Linked DNA regions of Homo sapiens: region 1 is linked to region 2. A link means that fine-mapping ties the variant in region 2 to the plasma level of a protein whose gene starts in the linked region. Region 2 holds a variant in brackets. A gene starts in the other region. All regions are shown on their reverse strands.

Region 1 (12,473 bases), not on the chromosome of region 2:
TGTCTCTGCCAGGCTTTGGTATCAGGATGATGCTGGCCTCCTGAAATGAGTTAGGGAGGATTCTCTCTTTTTCTATTGATTGGAATAGTTCCAGGAGGAATGGTACCAGCTCCTCTTTGTACCTCTGGTAGAATGTGACTGTGAATCTGTCTGGTCCTGGACTTTTTTCGGTTGGTAGGCTATTAATTATTGCCTCAATTTTAGAGCCTGTTATTGGTCTATTCATGGATTCAACTTCTTTCTGGTTTAGTCTTGGGAGGGTGTATGTGTCCAGGAATTTATCCATTTCTTCTAGATTTTCTAGTTTATTTGCATAGAGGTGTTTATAGTATTCTCTGATGGTAGTTTGTATTTCTGTGGGCTCAGTGGTGATATCCCCTTTATCATTTTTTATTGAGTCTATTTGATTCTTCTCTCTTTTCTTCTTTATTAGTCTTGCTAGCTGTCTATCAATTTTGTTGATCTTTTCAAAAAACCAGCTCCTGGATTCATTGATTTTTTGAAGGGTTTTGTTGTGTCTCTATCTCCTTCAGTTCTGCTCTGATCTTAGTTATTTCTTGCCTTCTGCTAGCTTTTGAATGTGTTTGCTCTTGCTTCTCTAGTTCTTCTAATTGTGATGTTAGGGTGTCGGTTTTAGATCTTTCCTGCTTTCTCTTGTGGGCATTTAGTGCTATAAATTTCCCTCTACACATTGCTTTAAATGTGTCCCAGAGATTCCGGTATGTTGTGTCTTTGTTCTCCTTGGTTTCAAAGAACATCTTTATTTCTGCCTTCATTTCGTTGTGTACCCAGTAGTCATTCAGGAGCAGGTCGTTCAGTTTCCATGTAGTTGAGCGAGTTTCTTAATCCTGAGTTCTAGTTTGCCCTGTGGTCTGAGAGACAGTTTGTTATAATTTCTGTTCTTTTACATTTGCTAAAGAGTGCTTTACTTCCAACTATGTGGTCAATTTTGGAATAAGTGCGATGTGGTGCTGAGAAGAATGTATATTCTGTTTATTTGAGGCGGAGAGTTCTGTAGATGTCTATTAGTTCTGCTTGGTGCAGAGCTGAGTTCAATTCCTGGATATCCTTGTTAACTTTCTGTCTCATTGATCTGTCTAATGTTGACAGTGGGGTGTTAAAGTCTCCCATTATTATTGTGTGGGAGTCTAAGTCTCTTTGTAGGTCTCTAAGGGCTTGCTTTATGAATCTGGGTGCTCCTGTTTTTGGGTGCATATATATTTATGATAGTTAGCTCTTCTTGTTGAATTGATCGCTTTACCATTATGTAATGGCCTTCTTTGTCTCTTTTGATCTTTGTTGGTTTAAAGTCTGTTTTATCAGAGACTAGGATTGCAACCCTTGCTTTTTTCTGTTTTCCATTTGATTGGTAGATCTTCCTCCATCCCTTTATTTTGAGCCTATGTGTGTCTCTGCAGGTAAATGGATCTCCTGAACACAGCACAATGATGGGTCTTGACTCTTTATCCAATTTGCCAGTCTGTGTCTTTTAATTGGAGCATTTAGCCCATTTACATTTAAGGTTAATACTGTTATGTGTGAATTTGATCCTGTCATTATGATGTTAGCTGGTTATTTTGCTCATTAGTTGATGCAGTTTCTTCCTAGCATTAACGGTCTTTACAACTTGGCATGTTTTTGCAGTGGCTGGTCCTGGTTGTTCCTTTCCATGTTTACGGCTTCCTTCAGGAGCTCTTGTAAGGCAGGCCTGGTGGTGACAAAATCTTTCAGCATTTGTTTGTCTGTAAAGGATTTTATTTCTCCTTCACTTATGAAGCTTAGTTTGGCTGGATATGAAATTCAGGGTTGATATGAAATTCTTTTCTTTAAGAATGTTGAATATTGGCCCCCACTCTCTTCTGGCTTGTAGAGTTTCTGCCGAGAGATCCGCTGTTAGTCTGATGGGCTTCCCTTTGTGGGTAACCTGACCTTTCTCTCTGGCTGCCCTTAACATTTTTTCCTTCATTTCAACTTTGATGAATCTGAAAATTATGTGTCTTAGAGTTGCTCTTCTTGACGATTATCTTTGTGGTATTCTCTGTATTTCCTGAATTTGAATGTTGGCCTGCCTTGCTATGTTGGGGAAGTTCTGGATAATATCCTGAAGAGTGTTTTCCAACTTGGTTCCATTCTTCCCATCACTTTCAGGTACACCAGTCAGACATAGATTTGGTCTTTTCACATAGTCCCACATTTCTTGGAGGCTTCATTCATTTCTTTTTACTCTTTTTTCTCTAAACTTCTCTTCTGGCTTCATTTCATTCATTTGATCTTCAATCCCTGACACCCTTTCTTCCACTTGATCAAATTGGCTACTGAATCTTGTGCATGCATCATGTAGTTCTCGTGCCATGGTTTTCAGCTCCATCAGGTCGTTTAAGGTCTTCTCTACACTGTTTATTCTAGTTAGCCATTTGTCTAATCTTTTTTCAAGGTTTTTAGCTTCTTTGCGATGGGTTCGAACTCCTCCTTTAGCTCGGAGAAGTTTGTTATTACCAATCGCCTGAAGCCATCTTCTCTCAACTCATCAAAGTCATTCTCCATGCAGCTTTGTTCTGTTGCTGGTGAGGAGCTGCATTCCTTTTGAGGAGAAGAGGCACTCTGATTTTTAGAATTTTTGGCTTTTCTGCTCTGGTTTCTCCCCATCTTTGTGATTTTATCTACCATTGGTCTTTGATGATGGTGACACACAGATGGTGTTTTGGTTTGGATGTCCTTTCTGTTTGTTCGTTTTCCTTCTTACAGTCAGGACCCTCAGCTGCAGGTCTGCTGGAGGCTGCTGGAGGTGCACTCCAGTCCCTGTTTGCCTGGGTATCACCAGTGGAGACTGCAGAACAGCAAATATTGCAGTACGGCAAATGTTGCTGCCTGATCCTTCCTCTGGAAGCTTCATCTCAGAGGGACACCTGGCTGTATGAGGTGTCAGTCAGCTCCTACTGGGAGGTGTCTCCCAGTTAGGCTACTCGGGCTCAGGGACCCACTAGAGGAGGCAGTCTGTCTGTTCTCAGATCTCAAACTCCATGCTCAGAGAACCACTACTCTCTCCCACGCTGTCAGACAGGGATGTTTAAGTCTGCAGAAGTTTCTTCTGCATTTTGTTCAGCTATGCCCTGCCCTCAGAGGTGGAGTCGACAGAGGCAGGCAGGCCTCCTTGAGCTGCAGTGGGCTCCACCCAGTTTGAGCTTCCTGGCAGCTTTGTTTACCTGCTCAAGCCTCAGCAATGGTGGATGCCCCTCCCGTAGCCTCGCTGCCACCTTGCAGTTTGATCTCAGACTGATGTGCTAGCAGTGAGCAAGGCTCTGTGGGCATGGGACCCTCCGAGCCAGGCATGGGATATAATCTCCTGGTGTGCCATTTGCTAAGACCATTGGAAAAGTGCAGTATTAGGGTGGGAGTGTCCTGATTTTCCAGGTACCGTCTGTCATAGCTTCCCTTGGCTAGGAAAGGGAATTCCCCAATCCCTTGCGCTTCCTTGGTGAGGCAATGCCCCACCCTGCACCATGGGCTGTCCCCACTGTCTGCCAAGCCCCAGTGAGATGAACCCAGTACCTCAGTTGGAAATGCAGAAATCACCAATCTTCTGTGTCGCTCACGCTGGGAGCTATAGACTGGAGCTGTTCCTATTTGGCCATCTTGGAACCCAATCCACCTAAGGTCTTGCTCTAAGGTTCTATGCCTGAAAATCTTTGAAAGAGGTGAAGGACCTCTTCAAGGAGAAATACAAACCACTGCTCAATGAAATAAAAGAGGACACAAATAAATGGAAGATCATTCTATGCTTACGGATAGGAAGAATCAGTATTGTGAATATGGCCATACTGCCCAAGGTAATTTATAGATTCAATGCCATCCCCATCAAGCTACCAATGACTTTCTTCACAGAATTGGAAAAAACTACTTTAAAGTTCATATGGAACCAAAAAAGGTCCCACATTGCCAAGACAAACCTAAGTCAAAAGAACAAAGCTGGAGGCATCACGCTACCTGACTTCAAACTATACTCCAAGGCAACAGCAACCAAAACAACATGGTACTGGTACCAAAACAGAGATATAGACCAATGGAACAGAACAGAGCCCCCGGAAATAATACCACATATCTACAACCATCTGATCTTTGACAAATCTGACAAAAACGAGAAATGGGGAAAGGATTCCCTATTTAATAAATGGTGCTGGGAAAACTGGCTAGCCATATATAGAAAGCTGAAACTGGATCCCTTCCTTACACCTTATAAAAAATTAATTCAAGATGGATTAAAAACTTAAATGTTAGATCTAAAACCATAAAAACCCTAGAAGAAAACCTAGGCAATACCATTCAGGCAACAGGCATGGGAAGGACTTCATGACTAAAACACCAATAACAATGGCAACAAAAGCCAAAATTGACCAATGGGATCTAACTAAATTAAAGAGCTTCTGCACAGCAAAAGAAACTACCATCAGAGTGAACAGACAACCTACAGAATGGGAGAAAATTTTTACAATCTACCCATCTGACAAACGGCTAATATCCAGAATCTACAAAGAACTTACATAAATTTACAAGAAAAAATCAACCAACCCCATCAAAAAATGGGCAAAGGATATGAACAGACACTTCTCAAAAGAAAACATTTATGCAGGCAACAGACACATGAAAAAATGCTCATCATCACTGGCCATCAGAGAAATGCAAATCTAAACCACAATGAGATACCATCTCACACCAGTTAGAATGACAGTCATTAAAAAGTCAGGAAAAAACAGGTGCTGGAGAGGATGTGGAGAAATAGGAACACTTTTACACTGTTGGTGGGACTCTAAACTAGTTCAACCATTGTGGAAGACAGTGTGGCGATTCCTCGAGGGACTAGAACTAGAATTTGACCCAGCCATCTCATTACTGGGTATATACCCAAAGGATTATAAATCACGCTGCTATAAAGACACATGCACACATATGTTTATTGTGGCACTATTCACAATAGCAAAGACTCGTGAACCATCCCAAATGTCTATCAATGATAGACTGGATTAAGAATATATGGCACATATGCACCATGGAATAGTATGCAGCCATAAAAAAGGATGAGTTCATGTCCTTTGTAGGGACATGGATGAAGCTGGAAACCATCATTCTGAGCAAACTATTGCAAGGACAGAAAACCAAACACCGCATGTTCTCACTCATAGGTTGGAATTGAACAATGAGAATATTTGGACACAGGGAGGGGAACACCACACACCGGGGCCTGTCGTGGGGTGGGGGGAGGGGGGAGGGATAGCATTAGGAGATATACCTAATGTAAATGACAAGTTAACGGGTGCAGCACACCAACATGGCACATGTATACATATGTAACAAACCTGTACATTGTGAACTTAAAGTATAATAATAATAAAAAAAGGTAAAAAAAAAAAAGTAGACACATACTATAATCACCTTGAAAAAAAAAGAAAGTCTTTCAAAGAGATAAAAAATTCCATATACTCCACTTCCTACAATTCTGGCAGTTTCCAAATACTTTTACTTATGTGAAAATGCTATCATATCCAAGAGTGCCTTTAGAGCTAAGCTAACAGTAGGCTACTGATCTTTAGCACATTGCTTTTTCTGTTGTGTTATTCAGGGGGCTTTCTCACATTTATGTTTCCATTTTTCACATTTCACAACTTTCTTTGGAGCACAGATATTTCAGGAAGATTTTAGAGCCTTTGAATAGCATTATGGACTTTTTTGCATTAATTTTTACTTTTACAAAATTGTGCTAAATATTATTTCTGTTAATTAGTGAGTTTTGTTGGGGGCCCCTTAAATTGGAACCCCAGGCTATGCCTCATTTGCTTCACTCTGGTCCTGGCCCTGAGAGAGGAACACAAAAGGGATGGTTAGAAAAACAAGAACAAATGAGCCTCCCAGAATTTTCTCAAACAACAGGCCAGTTAATTAAGGAAAGTAGATATTACATAGCTAGGTATAATGAACATGCAGTCAGTGGATTGTCTCAGTAATTTATGGAGATAACCACCAACAAAAAGTGTATGTGGGTGGGGACAAAAGAGAGACAACAAAGTACTGCAGGCAGAAAGCTTCCTTTTGCTGATTTTGCCTCACAGAATTGAGAGTTTGTTCTTACACACAAGTTTAATGCCACCTTCCTCTGTCTGCCATGGACCAACAAGCAATATATGCTGAGTTAAACTTACCCACAGACTCAGGCCCAGAAAGTTCTTCACCTTCATCTCTTCCTCGGGGTAAGTGGCTTTAATTTTCCTTTCGGCATTTGTATGTCTTCCAGAATTAGATCTTCCTGTTACATTTATGGCTTTAAATCATTGCTTTAAAGATGAGCAGTAGTTTTATATTAATGTTTAACGGGTGTTGCATGGCTTGCCTGTAGATAATCACAACTTTGGGAAAAAAAATTTAAACCTCATACATTTATTTTTTTCAATCAAGTTAGCATGAAAAGCAAACATCACTTGTCTTACTGAGCCTTGGTTAAAAGACTCTGAACACTTTAGGCTACCCTGGGCACACTGCCTATTGGTTACCCCTGCTCTACAGGGATGGAAAGAAGGAAGAAAGAAAGAAAGAAAGAAAAGAAAGAAAGAAAGAAAGAAAGAAAGAAAGAAAGAAAGAAAGAAAGAAAGGAAGAAAGAAAGAAAGAAAGGAAAGAAAGAGAAAGAAAAGAAGAAAGAAAGAAAGGAGAGAAAGAAAAAGAAAGAGAGAGAAAGGAAAGGAAAGAAAGAAAAAGAGAAGGAGGAAGGAAGGAAGGATGGAAGGAAGGAAGGAAAAATATTTTACATGTATGAACTAAGGAATATTTAAGACACATTGCAAACTTGCTGTAATAACAACCTACGTTATTCCAAATTCCTCTACAAAATATCAATACTATGATTAAGTCCCAGTGCATTTTCATCCATAATATTCCTTTCAGAATACAACGTGTAGGCCAGTTGCAGTGGCTCATGCCTGTAATCCCAACACTTTGGTAGGCTAAGGTGATTTGCTTGAGTCCAGGAGTTTAAGGCCAGCCTGGGCAATGTGGCAAAACCTCATCTCTACAAACAATACAAAAAAATAGCCAAGTGTGGGGCACGTGCCTGTGGTCCTAGCTACTCGGGAGGCTGAGGTGAGAGGATTGCTTGAGCCCAAGAGATCAAGGCTGCAGTGAGCTGTAATTGTGCCACTGTACTCCAGCCTGGGTGACACAGCAAGACTATCTCAAAAAAAAAAAAAAAATATATATATATATATATATATATATACTTTTTATACATATATTTTATATATTTTATATATATATATATACTTTTTATACATATATTTTATATATTTTATATATATATATATAAAGTGTAGGCTTAATGAGTAACATACTTCACTCTCTCAAGAGAGGGGAACACTTTCTGGAAAAAAAATCATATTCAAGATCAAAGATTTGAATATCATTACTACCTGATAGTTTCTAGTTTGAAAAGTATCACAGCTTAGAAAGAGACAAGCCACAAAAATACTCGAGCATATCAGTAACGAACCTACTTACCATTTGTTGAAACTGGCACTTTCCTGTGTCTCTGAAGAGTTAGCATTCTGAGTGAAAGAAGCGGGGAACACCAATGTGAGGTAACACATGATGGATAGCATGGCCTGTGGATGGATGGGAAGAAACTAGAAACTGAGGCAGAAAATCAGCATGAAATTATTATGACACATTATTATTTTCTGATATCTAACTGAATTTACTATCATTGATAATATTACAATTGTTTACCAATCTGATATTCATTCCATGTCATGCCAAGCATTTGACTTGTGCTGTTTTAAGACTGTTTAAGTTTTAAACTATTGAATTCTCAAAGTTTTAAGTCAAGAAGAAAGTCTTAGAGCCGTCAATTAAGTTTCAGTATAATTTTCACATAAGAGTAGAGGAAATCAGAGGGTTCTAATAACTATAGGGAGGATTTGGTTGAGTAACATTTTTTTTTAAAGAAAAGAGTAAGTCTTTCTTTTCCTCTATTCATATCTAGCAAAAGGTGGAAAGTGGGCTTTTGTCAGAAAATGAATATAGAGGTAGTGAGACTCTTCCCAAATGTTGCTATGATCCCAAACCAATGGATGCAGAAATTTTTTCTACTTGGATTGTAATAATTATCCTATAAAATGTCATTCTGAGAGTAAACCTGAAGAAAAAATAAGAGTAGAATAAAGCCAGAGCAAAATATGTGACTATAGAACACTGGTCTGATATTGAATGACAGTAAAACCACTATTGGTCTCTGGCTAAACTGCTGAGGCTGTGGTCACTCTGTAGCAAGCACGGTGATTGTGTCTAAGGCAGTCAACAAAACCAGAAGGAGAGATGTGAGTGATAACCGATCTTGCTTATGGCCAAATGGCCAAGGGTTTGGTCTGTTAGAAAAGTGGATAAGGTGTTTGCAAAAATGCCCCTAGAGTTTATTCATTCATTAAAAAATAAGCTCCTACTCTGCACCAGGCATGCTGTGAATACAGCAGTGAACAAAATAGAGAAAATTATTTTCCTTCATAGAGTTTATAGTAAAATAGAGGCACACTTGTGGAAGACAGTATGGCGATTCCTTAAGGATCTAGAGCTAGAAATACCATTTGACCCAGTGATCCCACTACTGGGTATATACTCAAAGGATAATAAATCATGCTGCTATAAAGACACATGCACACGTATGTTTATTGCGGCAGCATTCACAATAGCAAAGACTTGGAACCAACCCAAATGTCCATCATTGATAGACTGGATTGAGAAAATGTGGCACATATACACCATGGAATACTGTGCAGCCATAAAAAAGGATGATTTCATGTCCTTTGTAGGGACATGGATGAGGCTGGAAACCATCATTCTGAGCAAACTATCACAAGGACAGAAAGCCAAACACCGCATATTCTCACTCATAGTGGGAATTGAACAATGAGAACACATGGACACAGGGCAGGGAACATCACACACCAGGGCCTGTTGTGGGGTGGGGGTAGGGAGAAGGGATAGCACTAGGAGAAATACCTAATGTAAATGACGAGTTAACGGGTGCAACAAACCAACATGGCACATGTATACATATGTAACAAACCTGCACATTGTGCCCATGTACCCTAGAACTTAAAGTATAATAAAAAATAAAAATTAAAAAAATGGAGGCACACCATCAATAAAATAAACAAATAACTAAGTCAGTATAAAAGATGAGACGGTGTTAATGTTATTGAGAAAGATTTGAATATAGGATTTAACTTTCGGGGAGGGTAGCATATCAAACAGAATAATCAAGGAAGGCCTCCCTGAGAAGATGACATTGAGTCAAAACCTGACAGAAGTGAGGGACAAAGACATAAGCCCCTGAGAGAGAAGCCTTCTAGGAAGGTGACCAACAAGTGCAAACACATCGAAATGAAAACACGCCTGTGGTATTGTAGGAGGCATCTGCGTGGAGAGTGAGCGTATGGAGGCCAGATGGGGTGAGGGCAAAATGTGAAACCACTATTGGACTCTGGCTAAACTGTTGAGGCTATGGTCACTCTGTAGCATGGTGATTGTGTCTAAGGCAGTCAACAAAACCAGAGAGATGTGAGTGATAACATCCAACAGAAGTGGGCGCCAGCTTAAATAGGGACATATGAGCCATTCTACAGACTCAGATTTGCCTGATGAAAAGCCATTGGAAGGTTTAGAATAATGAAATGAGATGATTTCACATACTTTTTAAACTCAAATGGAGAACAGCCATAGGTAGGTATTTCCAGATAGCTAACGTCCGCCGGACCCCTGTAGTGATTCATTGTAACTTCATTAATTCTAATGTCACGTGGTGCCACAGAAACACAGTACAGGAGTACATTCCTCCCAGACACAGTACACTCCACTCAACTCCTTACATTTTAGCATGAATGAATAACGATTTTTAAAAGTCACCAAGTTGCCTTTTACCTATAGTTAAAAAAAAAAAACAACTTTTAGAAAAAAAGAACTGCTGTTCATTGAACAGTTACCATGTGCCAGACACTGTGCCCAGCATTTAGAAGAATTGTTTCATATAATCCTCTCCAAAATATTATGACATAGATAATATTCCACATTTCACAGATGAGGAAATCTGTGGGTTATGAAGGTTGAACGTATTTTCCAAAATAACATGTTCACATTCAGATTTGCTAGATCGGAAAGACTGTTCTTAATCAATGTTAGCCTTTAGTAATGAAAATTACTAAATTCATGTTAGTAATAGAATTAGGCTGGGTGCGGTGGCTCACGTATGTAATCCCAGCACTTTGGGAGGCTGAGGCGGGTGGATCACCTGAGGTTGGGAGTTCGAGACCAGCCTGACCAACATGGAGAAACCCGTCTCTACTAAAAAAAAAAAAAAAAAATACAAAATTAGCCGGGCATGGTGGCGCATGCCTGTAATCCCAGCTACTCGGGAGGTTGAGGCAAGAGAATTGCTTGAACCTGGGAGGCGGAGGTTGCGGTGAGCTGAGATTGCACCATGAGCCTGGGCAACAAGAGTGAAACTCCGTCTCAAAAATAAATAAATAAATAAATAGAATTAAGTTAACACTTAAAATAGTGACTATACAGAGCTTTCTCCACTAGACAAACAAACTTAGAGTTTCAAGGAAGAAAACGGTGGGGAAGAGAAGAGACAGAAAGGTGAAATAACGTACATATATAAAACTGGAAGGAAAGCCATGCCAGTGCTGTCTTGGGCTTATTGACTGCATGTAGACATTCTTGTATCACACCAGCTCTCATTAGAAGTTCTAGGCCAATATTACCAAGCTTGGTTTCCTCACATTCAGATATATCCCTGGGGCCTTGGAGTCTCCTCTAGGTATCTACTCCTCCCTGCCCCCCTCCACTGATACAGCATGTCCTAAATAGTACCAGACGATAATCCATATGTTACAACCCTGACCCCAGTGTATTATGGTTCCTCCCATAATCTTTGATCACATCTAACGCTACTAAATTCTATCTCCTCAGGGCCGTTTTAGAGAGAGCTGATTCACTTATATCAGTGTGAGCATCCTAATGTGAGAGATTATCAGGTCTGCAAACTGGACTGCACAACTTAATCCTCAAGGATACTGTACCATTAAAAGTAGAAATGGCTTCATGGCCGTTCTGAAACATATAAAGAGACTAAAGGATAATATTATAGTATATCTGATGCTAAATTTTTTAACATGTAACTCATAGCAAGTAATCACTTACATGGAATAATATTAGAAAAAATAAAAAGGAATAGACAATACAAATAAATCAATAGCTTCAGATAAATTAGAAAGCCTTTATTCATAAAAGCTCCTAGCTCTAATAATAGAATTTATAAAGTAATTTATAATTATAATATATCTAATATGTTAAAAACCAAATGAGAGCAGAGGGAGACTTACAATTAAATCAGAGATAGGGGAGCTATTTAGGCACAACTTCTAGCAGTGTAACTGAGCAATATACTACCAGAATAATTCCTTATCAGAGTTGATTTAATTTTGGAAGCTATATCCCAGTGTTTCTCCAAAATATTTTTATAAATCTCTCTTTATTTTTTTTCTATTAATTCATGTTTTCAAAGATACAGAGCAAAATACATTGATAAAGTTGCGATTAATTTATAACATTTCATCAATATAATCATAACTTTTGAAGAACATGGGAGATTCATTATATAGTAATTGATGTGATTACAGAGAAAAGCAGAGATATCTGACACTTGGTTTAGACTATGCGATGTTGTAGACATAAGCGCATGTTATGTTATACTAGTGATAATATTGAAAAAGGTATGCAGTCACAAAACCTTATCCCTTGATGGCTTGGGATCCCAAGTTGGCTTAGACCCAACTTGGAGATGATTGTTCTAGACAACAGCAAAGCAGAGGATTCCATGTCCAAGAATAGAATTTCTGTATACCACCAGCACCTAACATGGTACTTGGCACAAAATAGAGAGAGCCTCAAAAAATATCTTGACTAAATGAAGGTCTTCCTTCTTGGACAAAATGCTTTGACTTACTTCATACATTAAGACATGCACTTAATTTTTGTATAGCACTTGGCAATTTTCAAAACATCTTTCTATCTATCTCATTTGGTTCTTACACCAATCCTTTGTATACACACATGCATAAGCGTTCATATTTTATCAATGAGCAAACTCTGTTGGATCTGAGAACCCATCTTGCAGGACTCTACTTTTAGAATGATGGATAGAGGTTGTTCCCTGCCCCCATCCCCCAAGCTGAATCTAATTGTCCCTATGTTATCCCAAGTACATTTTTGTGCCAGATGTACTCCACTGAGTTAACCAAGGTTTTTTGTTTCGTTTGTTTGTTTGTTTTTGTGTTTTTCTTTTTAACTTTTCAGATGTCTGTCAGGGTTCACCTTGGCATCAATTTGCCCTGAAACTTAGCTGTGCTGGGATTATTCTCCTTGTCTTGGTTGT
Region 2 (9,902 bases):
GGTCAGGAGTTTGAGACCAGCCTGACCAACATGGTGAAACCCTATCTGTACTAAAAATACAAAAATTAGCTGGGCATGGTGGTGTGTGCCTGTAATCCCAGCTACTTGGGAGGCTGAGGCAGGAGAATCACTTGAACCCAGGAGGCGGAGGCTGCAGTGAGCTGAGATTGTGCCATTGTACTCCAGCCTGGGCGACAAGAGTGAAACTCTGTCTTTAAAAAAAAAAAGTGTTCGTTGATTGTGCCAGGACAGGGTAGAGGGAGGGAGATAAGACTGTTCTCCAGCACAGATCCTGGTCCCATCTTTAGGTATGAAGAGGGCCACATGGGAGCAGAGGACAGCAGATGGCTCCACCTGCTGAGGAAGGGACAGTGTTTGTGGGTGTTCAGGGGATGGTGCTGCTGGGCCCTGCCGTGTCCCCACCCTGTTTTTCTGGATTTGATGTTGAGGAACCTCCGCTCCAGCCCCCTTTTGGCTCCCAGTGCTCCCAGGCCCTACCGTGGCAGCTAGAAGAAGTCCCGATTTCACCCCCTCCCCACAAACTCCCAAGACATGTAAGACTTCCGGCCATGCAGACAAGGAGGGTGACCTTCTTGGGGCTCTTTTTTTTCTTTTTTTCTTTTTATGGTGGCAAAAGTCATATAACATGAGATTGGCACTCCTAACACCGTTTTCTGTGTACAGTGCAGAATTGCTAACTCGGCGGTGTTTACAGCAGGTTGCTTGAAATGCTGCGTCTTGCGTGACTGGAAGTCCCTACCCATCGAACGGCAGCTGCCTCACACCTGCTGCGGCTCAGGTGGACCACGCCGAGTCAGATAAGCGTCATGCAACCCAGTTTTGCTTTTTGTGCTCCAGCTTCCTTCGTTGAGGAGAGTTTGAGTTCTCTGATCAGGACTCTGCCTGTCATTGCTGTTCTCTGACTTCAGATGAGGTCACAATCTGCCCCTGGCTTATGCAGGGAGTGAGGCGTGGTCCCCGGGTGTCCCTGTCACGTGCAGGGTGAGTGAGGCGTTGCCCCCAGGTGTCCCTGTCACGTGTAGGGTGAGTGAGGCGCGGCCCCCGGGTGTCCCTGTCCCGTGCAGCGTGATTGAGGTGTGGCCCCCGGGTGTCCCTGTCCCGTGCAGGGTGAGTGAGGCACTGTCCCCGGGTGTCCCTGTCACGTGCAGGGTGAGTGAGGCGCGGTCCCCGGGTGTCCCTGTCACGTGTAGGGTGAGTGAGGCACTGTCCCCGGGTGTCCCTCTCAGGTGTAGGGTGAGTGAGGCGCCGTCCCCGGGTGTCCCTGTCACGTGTAGGGTGAGTGAGGCGTGGTCCCCGGGTGTCCCTGTCCCGTGCAGGGTGAGTGAGGCGCTGTCCCCGGGTGTCCCTGTCACGTGCAGGGTGAGTGAGGCGCGGTCCCCGGGTGTCCCTGTCACGTGTAGGGTGAGTGAGGCACCGTCCCTGGGTGTCCCTCCCAGGTGTAGGGTGAGTGAGGCGCTGTCCCCGGGTGTCCCTCTCAGGTGTAGGGTGAGTGAGGCGCGGCCCCAGGTGTCCCTGTCACGTGTAGGGTGAGTGAGGCACCGTCCCTGGGTGTCCCTCCCAGGTATAGGGTGAGTGAGGCACTGTCCCCGGGTGTCCCTGTCACGTGCAGGGTGAGTGAGGCGCGGTCCCCAGGTGTCCCTGTCACGTGTAGGGTGAGTGAGGCACTGTCCCCGGGTGTCCCTGTCCCGTGCAGGGTGAGTGAGGCGCGGTCCCCAGGTGTCCCTGTCCCGTGCAGGGTGAGTGAGGCGCCGTCCCCGGGTGTCCCTGTCACGTGCAGGGTGAGTGAGGCACGGCCCCCGGGTGTCCCTGTCACGTGCAGGGTGAGTGAGGCGCGGCCCCCGGGTGTCCCTGTCACGTGCAGGGTGAGTGAGGCGCGGCCCCCGGGTGTCCCTGTCACGTGCAGGGTGAGTGAGGCGCGGTCCCCGGGTGTCCCTGTCACGTGCAGGGTGAGTGAGGCGCGGTCCCCGGGTGTCCCTGTCACGTGCAGGGTGAGTGAGGCGCGGTCCCCGGGTGTCCCTGTCACGTGCAGGGTGAGTGAGGCACGGTCCCCGGGTGTCCCTGTCCCGTGTAGGGTGAGTGAGGCACTGTCCCCGGGTGTCCCTGTCACGTTCAGGGTGAGTGAGGCGCGGTCCCCGGGTGTCCCTGTCACGTGTAGGGTGAGTGAGGCACCGTCCCCGGGTGTCCCTGTCACGTGCAGGGTGAGTGAGGCGCTGTCCCCGGGTGTCCCTGTCACGTGCAGGGTGATTGACGCGAGGCCCCCGGGTGTCCCTGTCACGTGCAGGGTGAGTGAGGCGCCGTCCCCGCGTGTCCCTGTCACGTGCAGGGTGAGTGAGGCGCCGTCCCCGGGTGTCCCTGTCACGTGTAGGGTGAGTGAGGTGCCGTCCCCGGGTGTCCCTGTCACGTGTAGGGTGAGTGAGGCGCCGTCCCCGGGTGTCCCTGTCACGTTCAGGGTGAGTGAGGCACGGCCCCCGGGTGTCCCTGTCACGTGTAGGGTGAGTGAGGCGCGGTCCCCGGGTGTCACTGTCACGTGTAGGGTGAGTGAGGCACTGTCCCCGGGTGTCCCTGTCACGTGTAGGGTGAGTGAGGCGCGGCCCCCGGGTGTCCCTGTCACGTGCAGGGTGAGTGAGGCGCGGCCCCCGGGTGTCCCTGTCACGTGTAGGGTGAGTGAGGCGCGGCCCCCGGGTGTCCCTGTCACGTGCAGGGTGAGTGAGGCGCGGCCCCCGGGTGTCCCTGTCACGTGCAGGGTGAGTGAGGCGCGGCCCCCGGGTGTCCCTGTCACGTGCAGGGTGAGTGAGGCACGGCCCCCGGGTGTCCCTGTCACGTGCAGGGTGAGTGAGGCGCGGCCCCCGGGTGTCCCTGTCACTTGCAGGGTGAGTGAGGCACTGTCCCCGGGTGTCCCTGTCACGTTCAGGGTGAGTGAGGCGCGGTCCCCGGGTGTCCCTGTCACGTGTAGGGTGAATGAGGCACTGTCCCCGGGTGTCCCTGTCACGTGCAGGGTGAGTGAGGCGCCGTCCCCGGGTGTCCCTGTCACGTGCAGGGTGATTGACGCGAGGCCCCCGGGTGTCCCTGTCACGTGCAGGGTGAGTGAGGCGCCGTCCCCGCGTGTCCCTGTCACGTGCAGGGTGAGTGAGGCGCCGTCCCCGGGTGTCCCTGTCACGTGTAGGGTGAGTGAGGCGCCGTCCCCGGGTGTCCCTGTCACGTGTAGGGTGAGTGAGGCGCCGTCCCCGGGTGTCCCTGTCACGTGTAGGGTGAGTGAGGCGCCGTCCCCGGGTGTCCCTGTCACGTGTAGGGTGAGTGAGGCGCCGTCCCCGGGTGTCCCTGTCACGTGCAGGGTGAGTGAGGCCCCGTCCCCGGGTGTCCCTGTCACGTGTAGGGTGAGTGAGGCACTGTCCCCGGGTGTCTCTGTCACGTGTAGGGTGAGTGAGGCGCCGTCCCTGGGTGTCCCTCTCAGGTGTAGGGTGAGTGAGGCGCCATCCCCGGGTGTCCCTGTCACGTGTAGGGTGAGTGAGGCGCCGTCCCCGGGTGTCCCTGTCACGTGTAGGGTGAGTGAGTTGCGGCCCCCGGGTGTCCCTCTCAGGTGCAGGGTGAGTGAGGCGCTGTCCCTGGGTGTCCCTGTCTCGTGTAGGGTGAGTGAGGCTCTGTCCCCAGGTGTCCTTGGCGTTTGCTCACTTGAGCTTGCTCCTGAATGTTTGCTCTTTCTATAGCCACAGCTGCGCCGGTTGCCCATTGCCTGGGTAGATGGTGCAGGCGCAGTGCTGGTCCCCAAGCCTATCTTTTCTGATGCTCGGCTCTTCTTGGTCACCTCTCCGTTCCATTTTGCTACGGGGACACGGGACTGCAGGCTCTCGCCTCCCGCGTGCCAGGCACTGCAGCCACAGCTTCAGGTCCGCTTGCCTCTGTTGGGCCTGGCTTGCTCACCACGTGCCCGCCACATGCATGCTGCCAATACTCCTCTCCCAGCTTGTCTCATGCCGAGGCTGGACTCTGGGCTGCCTGTGTCTGCTGCCACGTGTTGCTGGAGACATCCCAGAAAGGGTTCTCTGTGCCCTGAAGGAAAGCAAGTCACCCCAGCCCCCTCACTTGTCCTGTTTTCTCCCAAGCTGCCCCTCTGCTTGGCCCCCTTGGGTGGGTGGCAACGCTTGTCACCTTATTCTGGGCACCTGCCGCTCATTGCTTAGGCTGGGCTCTGCCTCCAGTCGCCCCCTCACATGGATTGACGTCCAGCCACAGGTTGGAGTGTCTCTGTCTGTCTCCTGCTCTGAGACCCACGTGGAGGGCCGGTGTCTCCGCCAGCCTTCGTCAGACTTCCCTCTTGGGTCTTAGTTTTGAATTTCACTGATTTACCTCTGACGTTTCTATCTCTCCATTGTATGCTTTTTCTTGGTTTATTCTTTCATTCCTTTTCTAGCTTCTTAGTTTAGTCATGCCTTTCCCTCTAAGTGCTGCCTTACCTGCACCCTGTGTTTTGATGTGAAGTAATCTCAACATCAGCCACTTTCAAGTGTTCTTAAAATACTTCAAAGTGTTAATACTTCTTTTAAGTATTCTTATTCTGTGATTTTTTTCTTTGTGCACGCTGTGTTTTGACGTGAAATCATTTTGATATCAGTGACTTTTAAGTATTCTTTAGCTTATTCTGTGATTTCTTTGAGCAGTGAGTTATTTGAACACTGTTTATGTTCAAGATATGTAGAGTATCAAGATACGTAGAGTATTTTAAGTTATCATTTTATTATTGATTTCTAACTCAGTTGTGTAGTGGTCTGTATAATACCAATTATTTGAAGTTTGCGGAGCCTTGCTTTGTGATCTAGTGTGTGCATGGTTTCCAGAACTGTCCATTGTAAATTTGACATCCTGTCAATAGTGGGCATGCATGTTCACTATATCCAGCTTATTAAGGTCCAGTGCAAAGCTTCTGTCTCCTTCTAGATGCATGAAATTCCAAGAAGGAGGCCATAGTCCCTCACCTGGGGGATGGGTCTGTTCATTTCTTCTCGTTTGGTAGCATTTATGTGAGGCATTGTTAGGTGCATGCACGTGGTAGAATTTTTATCTTCCTGATGAGTGAATCTTTTGGAGACTTCTATGTCTCTAGTAATCTAGTAATTCTTTTTTTAAATTGCTCTTAGTACTGCCACACTGGGCTTCTTTTGATTAGTATTTTCCTGCTGTGTCTGTTTTCTGCCTTTAATTTATATATATATATATATATTTTTTTTTTTTGAGACAGAGTCTTGGTCTGTCGCCCAGGGTGAGTGCAGTGGTGTGATCACAGGTCAGTGTAACTTTTACCTTCTGGCCTGAGCCGTCCTCTCACCTCAGCCTCCTGAATAGCTGGAACTGCAGACACGCACCGCTACACCTGGCTAATTTTTAAATTTTTTCTGGAGACAGGGTCTTGCTGTGTTGCCCAGGCTGGTCTCAAACTCTTGGACTCAAGGGATCCATCTACCTCGGCTTCCCAAAGTGCTGAATTACAGGCATGAGCCACCATGTCTGGCCTAATTTTCAACACTTTTATATTCTTATAGTGTGGGTATGTCCTGTTAACAGCATGTAGGTGAATTTCCAATCCAGTCTGACAGTCGTTGTTTAACTGGATAACCTGATTTATTTTCATTTTTTTGTCACTAGAGACCCG[C/T]CTGGTGCACTCTGATTCTCCACTTGCCTGTTGCATGTCCTCGTTCCCTTGTTTCTCACCACCTCTTGGGTTGCCATGTGCGTTTCCTGCCGAGTGTGTGTTGATCCTCTCGTTGCCTCCTGGTCACTGGGCATTTGCTTTTATTTCTCTTTGCTTAGTGTTACCCCCTGATCTTTTTATTGTCGTTGTTTGCTTTTGTTTATTGAGACAGTCTCACTCTGTCACCCAGGCTGGAGTGTAATGGCACAATCTCGGCTCACTGCAACCTCTGCCTCCTCGGTTCAAGCAGTTCTCATTCCTCAACCTCATGAGTAGCTGGGATTACAGGCGCCCACCACCACGCCTGGCTAATTTTTGTATTTTTAGTAGAGATAGGCTTTCACCATGTTGGCCAGGCTGGTCTCAAACTCCTGACCTCAAGTGATCTGCCCGCCTTGGCCTCCCACAGTGCTGGGATTACAGGTGCAAGCCACCGTGCCCGGCATACCTTGATCTTTTAAAATGAAGTCTGAAACATTGCTACCCTTGTCCTGAGCAATAAGACCCTTAGTGTATTTTAGCTCTGGCCACCCCCCAGCCTGTGTGCTGTTTTCCCTGCTGACTTAGTTCTATCTCAGGCATCTTGACACCCCCACAAGCTAAGCATTATTAATATTGTTTTCCGTGTTGAGTGTTTCTGTAGCTTTGCCCCCGCCCTGCTTTTCCTCCTTTGTTCCCCGTCTGTCTTCTGTCTCAGGCCCGCCGTCTGGGGTCCCCTTCCTTGTCCTTTGCGTGGTTCTTCTGTCTTGTTATTGCTGGTAAACCCCAGCTTTACCTGTGCTGGCCTCCATGGCATCTAGCGACGTCCGGGGACCTCTGCTTATGATGCACAGATGAAGATGTGGAGACTCACGAGGAGGGCGGTCATCTTGGCCCGTGAGTGTCTGGAGCACCACGTGGCCAGCGTTCCTTAGCCAGTGAGTGACAGCAACGTCCGCTCGGCCTGGGTTCAGCCTGGAAAACCCCAGGCATGTCGGGGTCTGGTGGCTCCGCGGTGTCGAGTTTGAAATCGCGCAAACCTGCGGTGTGGCGCCAGCTCTGACGGTGCTGCCTGGCGGGGGAGTGTCTGCTTCCTCCCTTCTGCTTGGGAACCAGGACAAAGGATGAGGCTCCGAGCCGTTGTCGCCCAACAGGAGCATGACGTGAGCCATGTGGATAATTTTAAAATTTCTAGGCTGGGCGCGGTGGCTCACGCCTGTAATCCCAGCACTTTGGGAGGCCAAGGCGGGTGGATCACGAGGTCAGGAGGTCGAGACCATCCTGGCCAACATGATGAAACCCCATCTGTACTAAAAACACAAAAATTAGCTGGGCGTGGTGGCGGGTGCCTGTAATCCCAGCTACTCGGGAGGCTGAGGCAGGAGAATTGCTTGAACCTGGGAGTTGGAAGTTGCAGTGAGCCGACATTGCACCACTGCACTCCAGCCTGGCAACACAGCGAGACTCTGTCTCAAAAAAAAAAAAAAAAAAAAAAATTCTAGTAGCCACATTAAAAAAGTAAAAAAGAAAAGGTGAAATTAATGTAATAATAGATTTTACTGAAGCCCAGCATGTCCACACCTCATCATTTTAGGGTGTTATTGGTGGGAGCATCACTCACAGGACATTTGACATTTTTTGAGCTTTGTCTGCGGGATCCCGTGTGTAGGTCCCGTGCGTGGCCATCTCGGCCTGGACCTGCTGGGCTTCCCATGGCCATGGCTGTTGTACCAGATGGTGCAGGTCCGGGATGAGGTCGCCAGGCCCTCAGTGAGCTGGATGTGCAGTGTCCGGATGGTGCACGTCTGGGATGAGGTCGCCAGGCCCTGCTGTGAGCTGGATGTGTGGTGTCTGGATGGTGCAGGTCAGGGGTGAGGTCTCCAGGCCCTCGGTGAGCTGGAGGTATGGAGTCCGGATGATGCAGGTCCGGGGTGAGGTCGCCAGGCCCTGCTGTGAGCTGGATGTGTGGTGTCTGGATGGTGCAGGTCAGGGGTGAGGTCTCCAGGCCCTCGGTGAGCTGGAGGTATGGAGTCCGGATGATGCAGGTCCGGGGTGAGGTCGCCAGGCCCTGCTGTGAGCTGGATGTGTGGTGTCTGGATGGTGCAGGTCTGGGGTGAGGTCACCAGGCCCTGCGGTGAGCTGGGTGTGCGGTGTCTGGATGGTGCAGGTCTGGAGTGAGGTCGCCAGACGGTGCCAGACCGTGCGGTGAGCTGGATATGCGGTGTCCGGATGGTGCAGGTCTGGGGTGAGGTTGCCAGGCCCTGCTGTGAGTTGGATGTGGGGTGTCCGGATGCTGCAGGTCCGGTGTGAGGTCACCAGGCCCTGCTGTGAGCTGGATGTGTGGTGTCTGGATGGTGCAGGTCTGGGGTGAGGTCGCCAGGCCCTGCTGTGAGCTGGATGTGTGGTGTCTGGATGGTGCAGGTCTGGAGTGAGGTCGCCAGGCCCTCGGTGAGCTGGATGTGCAGTGTCCAGATGGTGCAGGTCCGGGGTGAGGTCGCCAGACCCTGCGGTGAGCTGGATGTGCGGTGTCTGGATGGTGCAGGTCTGGAGTGAGGTCGCCAGGCCCTCGGTGAGCTGGATGTATGGAGTCCGGATGGTGCCGGTCCGGGGTGAGGTCGCCAGACCCTGCTGTGAGCTGGATATGCGGTGTCCGGATGGTGCAGGTCAGGGGTGAGGTCTCCAGGCCCTCGGTGAGCTGGAGGTATGGAGTCCGGATGATGCAGGTCCGGGGTGAGGTCGCCAGGCCCTGCTGTGAGCTGGATGTGCGGCGTCTGGATGGTGCAGGTCTGGGGTGTGGTCGCCAGGCCCTCGGTGAGCTGGAGGTATGGAGTCCGGATGATGCAGGTCCGGGGTGAGGTCGCCAGGCCCTGCTGTGAGCTGGATGTGCGGCGTCTGGATGGTGCAGGTCTGGGGTGTGGTCGCCAGGCCCTCGGTGAGCTGGAGGTATGGAGTCCGGATGATGCAGGTCCGGGGTGAGGTTGCCAGGCCCTGCTGTGAGCTGGATGTGCTGTATCCGGATGGTGCAGGTCCGGGGTGAGGTCGCCAGGCCCTGCTGTGAGCTGGATGTGCTGTATCCGGATGGTGCAGGTCTGGGGTGAGGTCACCAGGCCCTGCGGTGAGCTGGTTGTGCAGTGTCCGGTTGCTGCAGGTCCGGGGTGAGTTCGCCAGGCCCTCGGTGAGCTGGATGTGCGGTGTCCCCGTGTCCGGATGGTGCAGGTCCAGGGTGAGGTCGCTAGGCCCTTGGTGGGCTGGATGTGCCGTGTCCGGATGGTGCAGGTCTGGGGTGAGGTCGCCAGGCCTTTGGTGAGCTGGATGTGCGGTGTCTGCATGGTGCATGTCTGGGGTGAGGTCGCCAGGCCCTTGGTGGGCTGGATGTGTGGTGTCCGGATGGTGCAGGTCCGGCGTGAGGTCGCCAGGCCCTGCTGTGAGCTGGATGTGCGGTGTCTGGATGGTGCAGGTCCGGGGTGAGGTAGCCAAGGCCTTCGGTGAGCTGGATGTGGGGTGTCCGGATGGTGCAGGTCCGGGGTGAGGTCGCCAGGCCCTGCGGTTAGCTGGATATGCGGTGTCCGGATGGTGCAGGTCCGGGGTGAGGTCACCAGGCCCTGCGGTTAGCTGGATGTGCGGTGTCTGGATGGTGCAGGTCCGGGGTGAGGTCGCCAGGCCCTGCTGTGAGCTGGATGTGCTGTATCCAGATGGTGCAGGTCCGGGGTGAGGTCGCCAGGCCCTGCAGTGAGCTGGATGTGCTGTATCCGGATGGTGCAGGTCTGGCGTGAGGTCGCCAGGCCCTGCGGTTAGCTGGATATGCGGTGTCGGATGGTGCAGGTCCGGGGTGAGGTCACCAGGCCCTGCGGTTAGCTGGATGTGTGGTGTCCGGATGGTGCAGGTCTGGGGTGAGGTCGCCAGGCCCTGCTGTGAGCTGGATGTGCTGTATCCGGATGGTGCAGGTCCGGGGTGAGGTCGCCAGGCCCTGCGGTGAGCTGGATGTGCTGTATCCGGATGGTGCAGGTCTGGCGTGAGGTCGCCAGGCCCTGCGGTGAGCTGGATGTGCAGTGTACGGATGGTGCAGGTCCGGAGTGAGGTCGCCAGGCCCTGCGGTGGGCTGTATGTGTGTTGTCTGGATGGTGCAGGTCCGGGGTGAGTTCGCCAGGCCCTGCGGTGAGCTGGATGTGTGGTGTCTGGATGCTGCAGGTCCGGGGTGAGTTCGCCAGGCCCTCGGTGA

Which allele goes with the higher level. Alleles are on the strand shown, and positions count from the first base shown. The strength of an association depends on the size of the effect and on how common the allele is.
For the plasma level of the protein whose gene starts at base 6,078 in region 1, allele T in region 2 goes with a lower level than allele C (weak association).

The links. PIP is the chance, under the fine-mapping model, that this variant and not a neighbour inherited with it causes the effect. The UK Biobank Pharma Proteomics Project read protein levels with antibody pairs (Olink). The fine-mapping took linkage between variants from a reference panel, not from the people measured, so its PIPs are less certain.
Region 1: KLRB1 starts here. The variant in region 2 is fine-mapped to the plasma level of the KLRB1 protein (UK Biobank, PIP above 0.99).

Annotation. Positions count from the first base shown.
Region 1 is chr12:9,601,521-9,613,993 of GRCh38, reverse strand. It overlaps KLRB1 (killer cell lectin like receptor B1), which reads left to right and starts at 6,078. Exons shown (of 6, transcript NM_002258.3): 1 at 6,078-6,239; 2 at 12,395-12,473. The coding sequence starts at 6,155.
Region 2 is chr5:1,282,843-1,292,744 of GRCh38, reverse strand. All of the region lies in intron 2 of TERT (telomerase reverse transcriptase), which reads left to right. Among named protein-coding and RNA genes, the nearest start is that of TERT, 7.3 kb to the left of the region's middle. RefSeq lists enhancers at 749-1,499, 1,500-2,251, 5,025-6,271. The variant C/T (reference allele first, on the strand shown) is at 5,666.